Linked DNA regions of Homo sapiens. The protein of the gene in region 1 purifies or fractionates together with the protein of each later gene. This does not show direct contact. Each region holds a gene or a part of one and is shown in the gene's direction. Other genes may lie near its edges.

The links.
Region 2: the proteins of DCUN1D5 (region 1) and PNO1 fractionate together in Homo sapiens (co-fractionation; one large-scale study listed by BioGRID). This does not show direct contact.
Region 3: the proteins of DCUN1D5 (region 1) and UBL7 fractionate together in Homo sapiens (co-fractionation; one large-scale study listed by BioGRID). This does not show direct contact.

The regions. Positions count from the first base shown.
Region 1 is NC_000011.10:103,064,661-103,068,160, reverse strand, and holds part of DCUN1D5 (DCN1-like protein 5), read left to right. Parts: intron 1-1,593; coding exon 1,594-1,702; intron 1,703-1,787; coding exon 1,788-1,892; intron 1,893-3,500. UniProt on the Homo sapiens protein: Contributes to the neddylation of all cullins by transferring NEDD8 from N-terminally acetylated NEDD8-conjugating E2s enzyme to different cullin C-terminal domain-RBX complexes which is necessary for the activation of cullin-RING E3 ubiquitin ligases (CRLs).
Region 2 is NC_000002.12:68,164,388-68,167,887, forward strand, and holds part of PNO1 (RNA-binding protein PNO1), read left to right. Parts: intron 1-550; coding exon of another isoform or gene 551-572; exon of another isoform or gene 573-1,487; intron 1,488-3,500. UniProt on the Homo sapiens protein: Part of the small subunit (SSU) processome, first precursor of the small eukaryotic ribosomal subunit.
Region 3 is NC_000015.10:74,451,161-74,454,660, reverse strand, and holds part of UBL7 (ubiquitin-like protein 7), read left to right. Parts: intron 1-2,282; coding exon 2,283-2,365; intron 2,366-3,140; coding exon 3,141-3,225; intron 3,226-3,500.

The DNA.
Region 1 (3,500 bases):
AGATAATGCTAATGCAAATTAGAAAATGTTATAAATTTTAATCATATTTAAATAAACTTATATGTAAAATAATCAGTTATGAGAAAAGTATGGGACCAAAACATTCAAAAAGAAATAGAAAATCTGAATGGCCCTATGGCCATTAAAAATGTTGGTTTATTAGTTAAAAGTTTTCCTTCCCTCAATACTCACCTGAGTTTGGACAGATGCTAATTCCAGGGTTACATAAGCTTTTTCAAAAAACGGGGGGGAAAAGTAGCAATTCTCTTTTCATTTTCTGAGTCTTATGTACTACAATCTTGTTAAAAAAACTAGCAAGGAGAGTAAGAATGAAACTTAAAAGCTAGTCTCACTTAGGAACCTAGCAAAACAACCCCAAAATCCAGCAATGTATAAAACAGATAACATGACCAAATTTGACTTATTCTAGAAATGCAAGGTTTAATTAATATTAGAAAATTGTCCAAAATATTTACACATTAATGAAATTATGTTACTACACATTATAGGCCTTTGCATTATTGATTTAGTATAGTCTTAGTTAAATCTGAGAATGCCAGGTGGCTGGAGAGCATGTTGAATAACTAAAATTCAGTTTTGAGTGGAATACTGTGGACCACAGTAGATGGCACAATTAATTTGATTAAAGGGAGTCAGATGGTCTCTCAGAGGTGGCAAAATGTGAGTTAGGTCTTGATGAATAATATTTTTATCAGCATGTTTGAGATTTCAAGTGGAAATAATGGGTGCTGAAGTATGGCAGTGGCATTTGGGAATGGTAAGTGATATAATTAGAGCATGGTAAGGTTATCAGGAAGTGGCAGGAGATGAAACTAGAGATTTGTGCCAAATTGTGAAAGGCCTTGACTGCCTTGCTTCTTGCTAAACAGTGGAATTTATCAACCCACTGAGACAAAGTCAGTTAAGATTTTTGAGCCTTCCATATATTTAGCTGCTTATATTTAATGTCTTGTCTTTAAAAATAACACGTATGACTTGTTGTTTGCATGCTTTTGCATATATAACTTATTTGAAGTTAGGTGCTTCTACTGATTGACTTTGACTTTTTGTTCACAAAAATATAGGGATCTTGATTTATGACTGGACCACTTAATGTATTAATTTGCACTGTGTTATATCCTAAACTTTTAAAACTACTCATGACTAATGTCTTTCACCAAACTGTTACCTACGAACTTTCTAAAGAAATGTGTGACAAAGGCGTGATTAGTTTCATTTGCTCTGCCATTTTTAGCTGTATATGTGATAAAACATGTTTTAATACATCTCTTTTTAACTTCGATTTTATTTGGAATTTTTGAATGAGCTGTTTGTTTGTTTTTAAGCAAAGTAATTGGAGTGAACTTTCTTTGATTCCCAGGTTTTCTTTTTTCCCCTTTTTTCTTTTTTTATTGCATTGGTAGATGCAGGGCAAGAAATTTATTACTCTAAATTTGTGACTCAGAATTTTAAAACTAAATTAACTTCATAAATGCGCTCACTTTTTTCTTAATGCATTACGTCTAACCCCCAGTGATACTTTTATTTGATTTTCTTGATTATGTAATTTGTTTGATATTTCTTTTATTTAAGGTGTGACTGCACAGAAAAGTTACAAAACAAATTTGACTTTTTGCGCTCACAGTTGAATGATATTTCGTCATTTAAGAATATCTACAGATATGCCTTTGATTTTGCAAGGGTAGGTGCAATTTTCTTGTTTTGTTGTTTTAATAGCTTTTCATCTTGAGACCACACTTAGGAAAACTTTTTCACTTATATTTTAGGATAAAGATCAGAGAAGCCTTGATATTGATACTGCTAAATCTATGTTAGCTCTTCTGCTTGGGAGGACATGGCCACTGTTTTCAGTATTTTACCAGTACCTGGAGGTACGTATGTTTTTTCGAATTTTGAAAATATTATTTTAAAACTTAATCTGAAAGTTATACTTTTGAGGAACAAGTAGATTTTTAATAGTATGCTTTAAAAAAACTTTAGAGAAAAAATTCTAAAATATGTACATATCAGTTGCTATTTTTAGATAGAAGTTCATGTTTATTAATATATTTTGTACCTAAGATATTTTCAATCCTACCCCCCCAGTCCCCCAAATAAAAGAAACCTCCAAGAAATACATTGTATCACAGACATTTGTCTTGCAGAATTAGTTTCTCGGGGTTTTCATAAGAGAGTTAATGCTAGTACACAAACCTTTAAGCTTCTAAATCTGATTTTCTTCTTTTGTTACACAGGGTCTTAAGCTGAAATGTACATAAGAGAACCAATTTAGTAATAAAACTTTCCTTTTCTACTTAGGCTCAATCTAAAGAAACAGAATAAAGCTATTAATATTTTATGGCCACAAATATGAGAATGGCTATAATAGTATACTTAAATATGCTGGTTACTAAAAAAATGTAAGCTGAAATGATGACGTGTTCTTTTAGAAGGTTTATCATAGCAACTACTATAGGCAGTGATTCTAAGAAGATGCTATTCTTTTTTTCCATTGCTTTGTCTAGTTTTTTTTTTTTAAATCTGTTTTTGTGCCTTTGTAATTCTAGGGTTATTGGTATAGTTCTCACCATATCTTGAATACAGATGCTTTTTCCTTTGGAAATAATTTCTCATAAAGCACATTGCTTATAGCTGCTTCCCTTTTCCCAGAGTAGTAAAAGTTGTGATACAAGACAGTGATATCAGCTGGGCGTGGTGGCACACGCCTGTAATCCCAGCACGTTGGGAGGCCAAGGCAGGCAGATCACTTGAGGCCAGGAGTTCGAGACCAGCCTGGCCAACATGGTGAATCCCCGTCTCTACTAAAAATACACACAAAAAATTAGCTGGGTGTGGTGGTTTGTGCCTGTAGTCCCAGCTACTCGGGAGGCTGAGGCACGAGAATTGCTTGAACCAGGGAGGTGGAGGTTGCAGTAAGCTGAGATTGCACCACTACACTCCAGCCTGGGTGACAGAACGAGACTCTGTCTCAGAAAAAAAAAAAAAGAGACAATGATATGAAAAGGTCTTACATGAATGAGTTTTACGCATGATTCAATCTGTAAGTCCTATAAATTATTTTTGATGGATGGTATCTATTTTCTTCCTATTAGTAGTTTTGGGCAAAAATAAATTTAACTGAATGTAAAAATATTCAGCTCTATGGGGAGCTGAGAAGAACTAAATATTTTCAGACACTTGTTATGTGCAGGTTGTTTGGCATATATTTTTAAAAATCTTTATAATACCATTTTGAATTAAATTCTATCCCCATTTAACAAATGAGGAGGTGGTTTCTATTCTTAAGTAACTTTCCCAAAATCACTCAATTAAGTGGCAAGGGTGGGATTTAAATCGAAGCCTATACTCTTTCACTTGTTTCCAAAGATGCCAAACTCAAAATGTGGCTAAACAGTAAATCTTGAGCAAAGAAATGATTTACTAGGAAGCAGCACAATAGAACATACTGGATGTAGGAAATGTTATATATCTTGATCTCA
Region 2 (3,500 bases), on another chromosome or scaffold:
GGCCGAAGTGGGAGGATCACCTGAGCCCAGAAGGTTGAAGCTGCAGGGAACCACGATCGTGCCACTGTACTCAACCCTGGGCGACAGAGTGAGACTCTAACAAAATAAAAATAAAAATACCACATATAGTCTGGGCGCAGTGGATCATGCCCATAATCCCAGCACTTTGGGAGGCCAAGGTGGGAGGAAGGAATGCTTGAGCCCTGAAGTTCAAGACCAGCCTGGGCAACATAGGGATCTCCATCTCTACAAAAAATATAAAAATTAGGTGTGATTGTGCACACCTGTAGCCCTAGCTGCTCAGGAGGCTCAGGTGGGAGGATTGCTTGAACCAAGGATGTCAAGACCACAGTGAACCATGATGGCACCACTGCACTCTAGCCTGGGTGACAGAGTGAAACCTTGTATCCAAAAAATAAAAAATTAATTAATTTAAAATCCATATACAGATGCTCCTCACCGTATGGTGGGGTTACGTCCAGATAAACCTGTTGTAAATTAATGATCTCATAAGTCAGAAGTTCATTTGATACTTCATTTGATATCATAGGATACTTCTCTTTGAAAACTGAAGAGCATTCCGAGTGTGTACCACTTTGGCGCAATTATAAAGTCAAAAAAAAATCTTCGGTTAAATCATCAAGTCATGGACTGGCTGAGTAGCCCTGAAAGCTTTCATGAATTTAGAAATCCATGGCCCGGCACGGTGGCTCACACCTGTAATCCCAGCACTTTGGGAGGCCGAGGCGGGCGGATCACGAGGTCAGGAGATCGAGACCATCCCGGCTAAAACGGTGAAACCCTGTCTCTACTAAAAATACAAAAAATTAGCCGGGCGTAGTGGCGGGCGCCTGTAGTCCCAGCTACTTGGGAGGCTGAGGCAGGAGAATGGCGTGAACCCGGGAGGCGGAGCTTGCAGTGAGCCGAGATCCCGCCACTGCACTCCAGCCTGGGCGACAGAGCGAGACTCCGTCTCAAAAAAAAAAAAAAAACAACAAAAAAAAAAAAACTAGCTGGGTGTGGTGGCACATGCCTGTTATCCCAGTTACTTGGGAGACTGAGGCAGGAGAATTGCTTGAACCTGGGAGGCGGAGACTGCAGTGAGTCAAGATTGCACCACTGCATTCCAGCCTGGGCGACAGAGTGAGACTCCATCTCAAAAAAAAAAAAAAAAAAAACGGCTGGGCATGGTGCCTCACACCTGTAATTTCAGCACTTTGGGAGGCTAAGGCGGGTGGATCACCTGAGGTTAGGAATTCGAAACCAGCCTGGGCGACAGTGAGACTCTGTCTCAAAAAAAAAAAGAATTTAGAAATCTAAAACTAACTGATTTGCCAATGAAATTATATAGTCTGTCATTAAGTTTATTACTGGTAAATTTATAAGTATATTTGTAAGTGTTAACCTAAAATTTACTAGTTAAACCAACGTTTTAGAAGTTTATTGTGGCATAATTTACATACAATAAAATTCTATTGTTTTAAGTATCCCGTTCAATGAGTTTTTGGCAAATGTATATTGTAGTCCCATGACACTCATACAGTTCTCTTACCCTGAAAGTTCCCTCGTGCATCTTTATGGTCAGTTGCCTGCCCCCACCCTTTTCTGGGACAACCATTGCTCTTGTTTCTGTCACTCTTATTTTGCATTTTCTAGAAATTCATATAAATGGAAATACACAGTATGTAGGCTTTGGTGTATGACTTCTCTTAATTAGCATGTTATTTTGGATTTCTCCATTTTGTTGGGTGTATCAGTAGTTCCTTTTTATTGGCAAGTACTATTTCATTGCACAGGTATACTGTTGACCCTTGAATATTGCAGGGATTAGGGATGCTGAACCCCTAACATGGTTGAAAATCCATGTATGTATGACTTGACTCTCCCAAAACTTAACTACTCCTGCTTTTGGCTGGAAGCTATACCAATAACAAACAGTTGATAAACACATATTTTGTATGTTATATGTATTATATACTGTACTCTTTCATAAAGTAAGCTAGAGAAAAAATGTTATTAAGAAAATTATAAGGAAGAGAAAATCTATCTACTCTTCATTAAGTGGAAGTGGGTTATCATAAAGGTCTTCATGGTGAATAAGCTAAGGAAGACGAGGAAGAGGGGTTAATCTTGCTGTCTCATGGGTGGCAGAGGAGGAAGATGTGGAAGGCGAGGCAGGAGAGGCAAGCATACTCTGGAACTTTACAGAAATACATTGTAATTTCTGACTTTTTTGCCCTTTCACTTCTCTAAAAATGTTTCTGTAGGGTACCAATCCTCTTCCACAGTTTTTAGTTTCAGTGCCCACGTCATAAAAGGGTCTATGTCATAAAAGACGTCAAAAGCATCTTGAATAATCAGAAACCTTCTGCCAAATTGTCTAATGTCACCTTGTTTTCTGACACTGCTGCTTCTACATCATCTTCCTCATCACCCGGCACTGCTTCAGAAGCACTCACCTCCATCAAGTCGTCTTCTGTTAATTCCTCTGGCATAGTGTCTGTTAGCTCTTGATTTCTCCGTGATCCATATCTTGAAACCCTTCACCCCTCACTTTTGGCCATATCCACAGTCTCTTTCATGATTTCTTGTTTGGCTCTGTCGTAAATCCTGTACTGTCATGCAAAACCTCTGGACATGGTTTTCTCCAGCAGGAATTTATAGCTGCAGGCATGAGGCTTTCACAGCTTTTTCCATAATAATGACAGTGTCTTCAATGGCATGGTCCTTCCAGACTTTTATGATGTTCTTTCCATCGAGTTCTCTTCCATAGCATTGACACTATTTTCCATAGAGTAGTGTGTGTAATGAACCTTAAAGGTCTTTATGACTACCTGTTCTGGAGGCTGAATTAGAGAGTGGGTGCAAGGAGACCACTTTGTTGCCTTTCGGTATTGAACTCATGGGGTTCTTGGGTGGCTGGGACATTGCTCAACATCAAAAGAGCTTTAAAAGGCATTCCTTACTGGCAAGATACTTCCTGACTTCAGGGAAAAAGCATCAATGGAATCAATCCAGAAAAAGAGCTCTCCTTGTGCAAGCCTTCTTGTACATCCAGAAGACAGGCCACTGGTGTTTACCTTTTCCCTTCAAGGATCGGGGTTAGCAGCTTTATAGATAACGGCAGTCCTGATCATAAACCTGACTGCATTTGCACAAAACAGTAAAGATAGCCTATCCTTTCCTGCATTAAATCCTGGTGTTTGCTTCTCTTCTTTACTAATAATTGCCCTTTGTGACATTTTTTTCCAGAACAGGACGTTTTTCATCTGCACAAAAAACCTGTTCAGGCAGATATTATTTCTCCTCAGTGATTTTCTTAATGGCATCTGGGAACTTGTCTGCTGCCCTTTGGTGAGCAGAAGCTGCTTCTCCTGTTACCCTGACATTTTTAAAGCCACCTCTTTCTAACATTATCGAAGCATCCTTTGCTGGCGTTAAGTTCTCCAGCTTTAGATCCTTCATTTTCCTTTTGCTGTAAGTTGTCATATAATGACTTA
Region 3 (3,500 bases), on another chromosome or scaffold:
TTTGGGAGGCCGAGGTGGGCGGATCACCTGAGATTGGGAGTTCGAGACAAGCCTGACCAACATGGAGAAACCCCGTCTATACTAAAAATACAAAATTAGCCAGGCATGGTGGTGCCTGCTTGTAATCCCAGCTACTTGAGAGGCTGACGCAGGAGAATCGGTTGAACCCAAGAGGCAGAGGTTGCAATGAGCCGAGATCACGCCATTGTATTCCAGCCTGGGCAACAAGAGCGAAACTCTGTCTCAAAAAAAAAAAAGTCCTTTCTAATATCCTCTTACTGAGACAGCCCACGGTTTCCTGTGGTGTGCATTCTTCTCTCTGTACTGAGCAGTAAACCCAACTTGTTTAAATACAGATATGCCCCTCAGCTCTTTGGCTGGAGGGCATTAACAGAAGGAAAATAACATTTGTGGCTTCTGTGAGCCAGGTTTTTTCCCTTTTATACCTCATTTAATCATTACAGTGGCCCTGCAGGGTAGGTAACAGCATTAGCATCTTATGGAGGAAGAAAAGGGTTAGGGCATTTATTCAAGGTCAGCTACTTAGAAAGTGAATGCAAGAGCTGGGATATGGACCAGGGGTTTTCCTGGCTCAAGAGGAAAACCATTTCCACTGGGCTGGCTGCGTTCCACTTCTAAAGGATGAATTTAGCTCAGAGATCTTACAGTGACAGCCATGGCTCTTAGCTGAATAATGGCTTAAGATATTAAGAGTCCTTTTCCTCCCACCTTCTACCTGGAGGATTATTTTTGAAACAAATGACCTTTTTATTGGAAGGTTACAATAAACTTTTAGATCTGTAAAGAAACTGTTTTGTGACAGTGTTTTAGATATTTGCTCCTTGAGTGCTTTTCTTCACAAAGGAATCACATTTTGTGTTCTCCCACAGATTAGGGCCTATAGGAGAAGAACCCATTGTTGTCTGTCTTCCCACCTGGATCTCTTTGGTAGTCCTCCATGGCGGGTTACAAATCCCTTCAGGACGTCACCTTAACCTGCTGTTTGAGCTGGAATGTGTACCCCAAGCTCCAGCCACAAAGAATGACTTGCTGTTTGTTCAAAGCACCACATTCTTTTATTCTCCCATGCCTTTGCACATGTTCTCATTCAGGCTTGGAATACCTTCACCCCCCCAGTAAATATCAGCTCTCTCTTTGATACCCATTTCAAATGGTCTCCTCTGGGAGGCAGCTGTCTATCTTCACCCTCCCTCTCAGTGGTGCCTGTCTGCCTTTGTGTTCCTGGTACCCTAGCTGGGATCCACGTCTCTGTTGAGGTCTTCAACGTGGCATTTTGTAATTGTGTATTTGATGTAGTCTCATTTCTCCTCCTGCCCTAAGAGTTCCTTGATGGCAGGGGTTCTTATTTTTCATATTCTAGTTCCTTGCCTAAAGCCAGGCATGGAGTAAATGCTTAGTACATGTTTGTTGAATGAATAAATTAGGTAATTTACTTAAGATGACTGTTTTTCAAAAGACAGCCTCATGATCAGGACTGTCGATAAGGATGTGGCTGCCACCCTGAACCCCAGGGGTGCTATTCACCTTGCTTTGGGAGTGGTGCCCTGGAGTTGGGCAGTACACAGTCAGTACAGTCACAAGTAGTGGTCCTTCGTGAGGATAACCATACTTTAAAAAGTGTGACCCAGGGCTGGGCACGGTGGCTCACGCCTGTAATCCTAGCACTTTGGGAGGCCGAGGTGTGTGGATCACTTGAGGTCAGGAGTTTGAGACCAGCCTGACCAATATGGTGAAACCCCATCTCAACTAAAAATACAAAAATTATCCAGGAGTGGTGTTGCACACCTGTAATCCCAGCTACTCAGGAGGCTGAGGCACGAGAGTTGCTTCAACCAGGGAGGTGGAGGTTGCAGCGAGCCGAGATTGCGCCACTGCATTCTGGCTGGGCAAGAGGTGAGACTGTCTGAAAAACAAAGGCAAAAACACCAAAAAACAAATGTTATTAGTCTAGAATTCCTGCAGTGGTATGTTGATCAGAGCACCGTTTTTCATGTGGTAAGAGTCTCCTCTGCTGCAACTTGAATTTGTTTGTTTATCTGTGCAAGATGCTTACAAGTGAATGTAAAGATGCTTACTAGCAGTTTTCACATCCATGGCACAAATGGGTTTTTCTGAGCAGGCACTCACATTCTTAAGGGGTGATGAGGGAAGGGAATGCACAGACCAGGCTGCTCCTTGGCACATGCTGAAATGATGTTGCCATGTCTGTGGCAGAGACAGGACCTGCGCTATAGGGTAACTCTGAATGTCTTGTCCCCCAGAACCTGTGGACAAAGTGGCTGCCATGAGAGAGTTCCGGGTGTTGCACACTGCCCTGCACAGCAGCTCCTCTTACAGGGAGGCGGTGAGTGTGTGCTGCGGCCCCCAGCCAGGACTGTAGGAGAGGGTGTGAACGCTGGCTGGCGAGTGGTGTGGAGTGGGAGCTGGAAGCCCGTTGCCATGGCAACCAAGAGTTCCTTGGGGAGTTTTTGCCATGTCTGTGGGCCTCAGTAGAGCCCTGTCTTTCCCCAAAGAGCCTGTCTCAGTCAGGCGTTGTTGATTCCCTCTAATGATAATAATACAACCTGCCCGTATGGTGACAGCCAAAAGATCCTCATACTGTTTCTGCTGGGCCTCATTCTTCGACTTTGGCTGAACTGCCTGCTTACTGCCCCTTGACCTAGATGTCCTCACTGGGGAAGTGGGCTGATGTCTTTCTGTAGGAGAGTTGAGAGGCAAAATTAGTATAGCTGTGAACTTAGCGATATATACAAATATGAAATAGTAATTGTACAGAGATTGAAAAGGACTTTTGGATTGGAACCTAGAGAAACCTTTGTTACCGGGCTTGTAATGAGAGCTTTTATTTTGGAAGCACTAAACTGTAGGTGGGGAAAAGGAGCACAGAGATTTGAAGGTTTACTGTGGTCTTGCCTTTTTTTTTTTTAAATTGTTTGTTTCCCCTCCAGTAAGCTAAGATCTTAGAGCAAAAAGAGGTTCATCTGTTTCTGGGGCTATTGTTCCATTGTGGTGATGTACATGCAAGCACTTAGAGGGAGGAAGTCCTTTGGCAGAGTGTGGGCATTTGATGAGTACATTGAGCTGGTTGGAGTGCTCAGCCCCCGCCATTTCTCCTGCAGGTCTTTAAGATGCTCAGCAATAAGGAGTCTCTGGATCAGATCATTGTGGCCACCCCAGGCCTCAGCAGTGACCCTATTGCTCTTGGTAAGTGCAGGACTGAATTTGAGGAAATAGGAGTTGTCGGAAAAGGAGAAAACAGGAGAAGACAATTCCTCTAAAGAGACTTGGACTATCTTTTGAAGAATGACTGGTCTTGTGGGAAGAGGGAGAGTAATCAAGGTGTGTTTGATATCCCCAGCCCTTTAAGAGCTCTCAGTCCCACAGAGAGATAATGGCCTAACTAACATCGTAAATAAGGGTATGAGGATGCCAAATGAGGATAGCAGTTAGCCCACATCACAGCAATCAGGGAAGGCGTC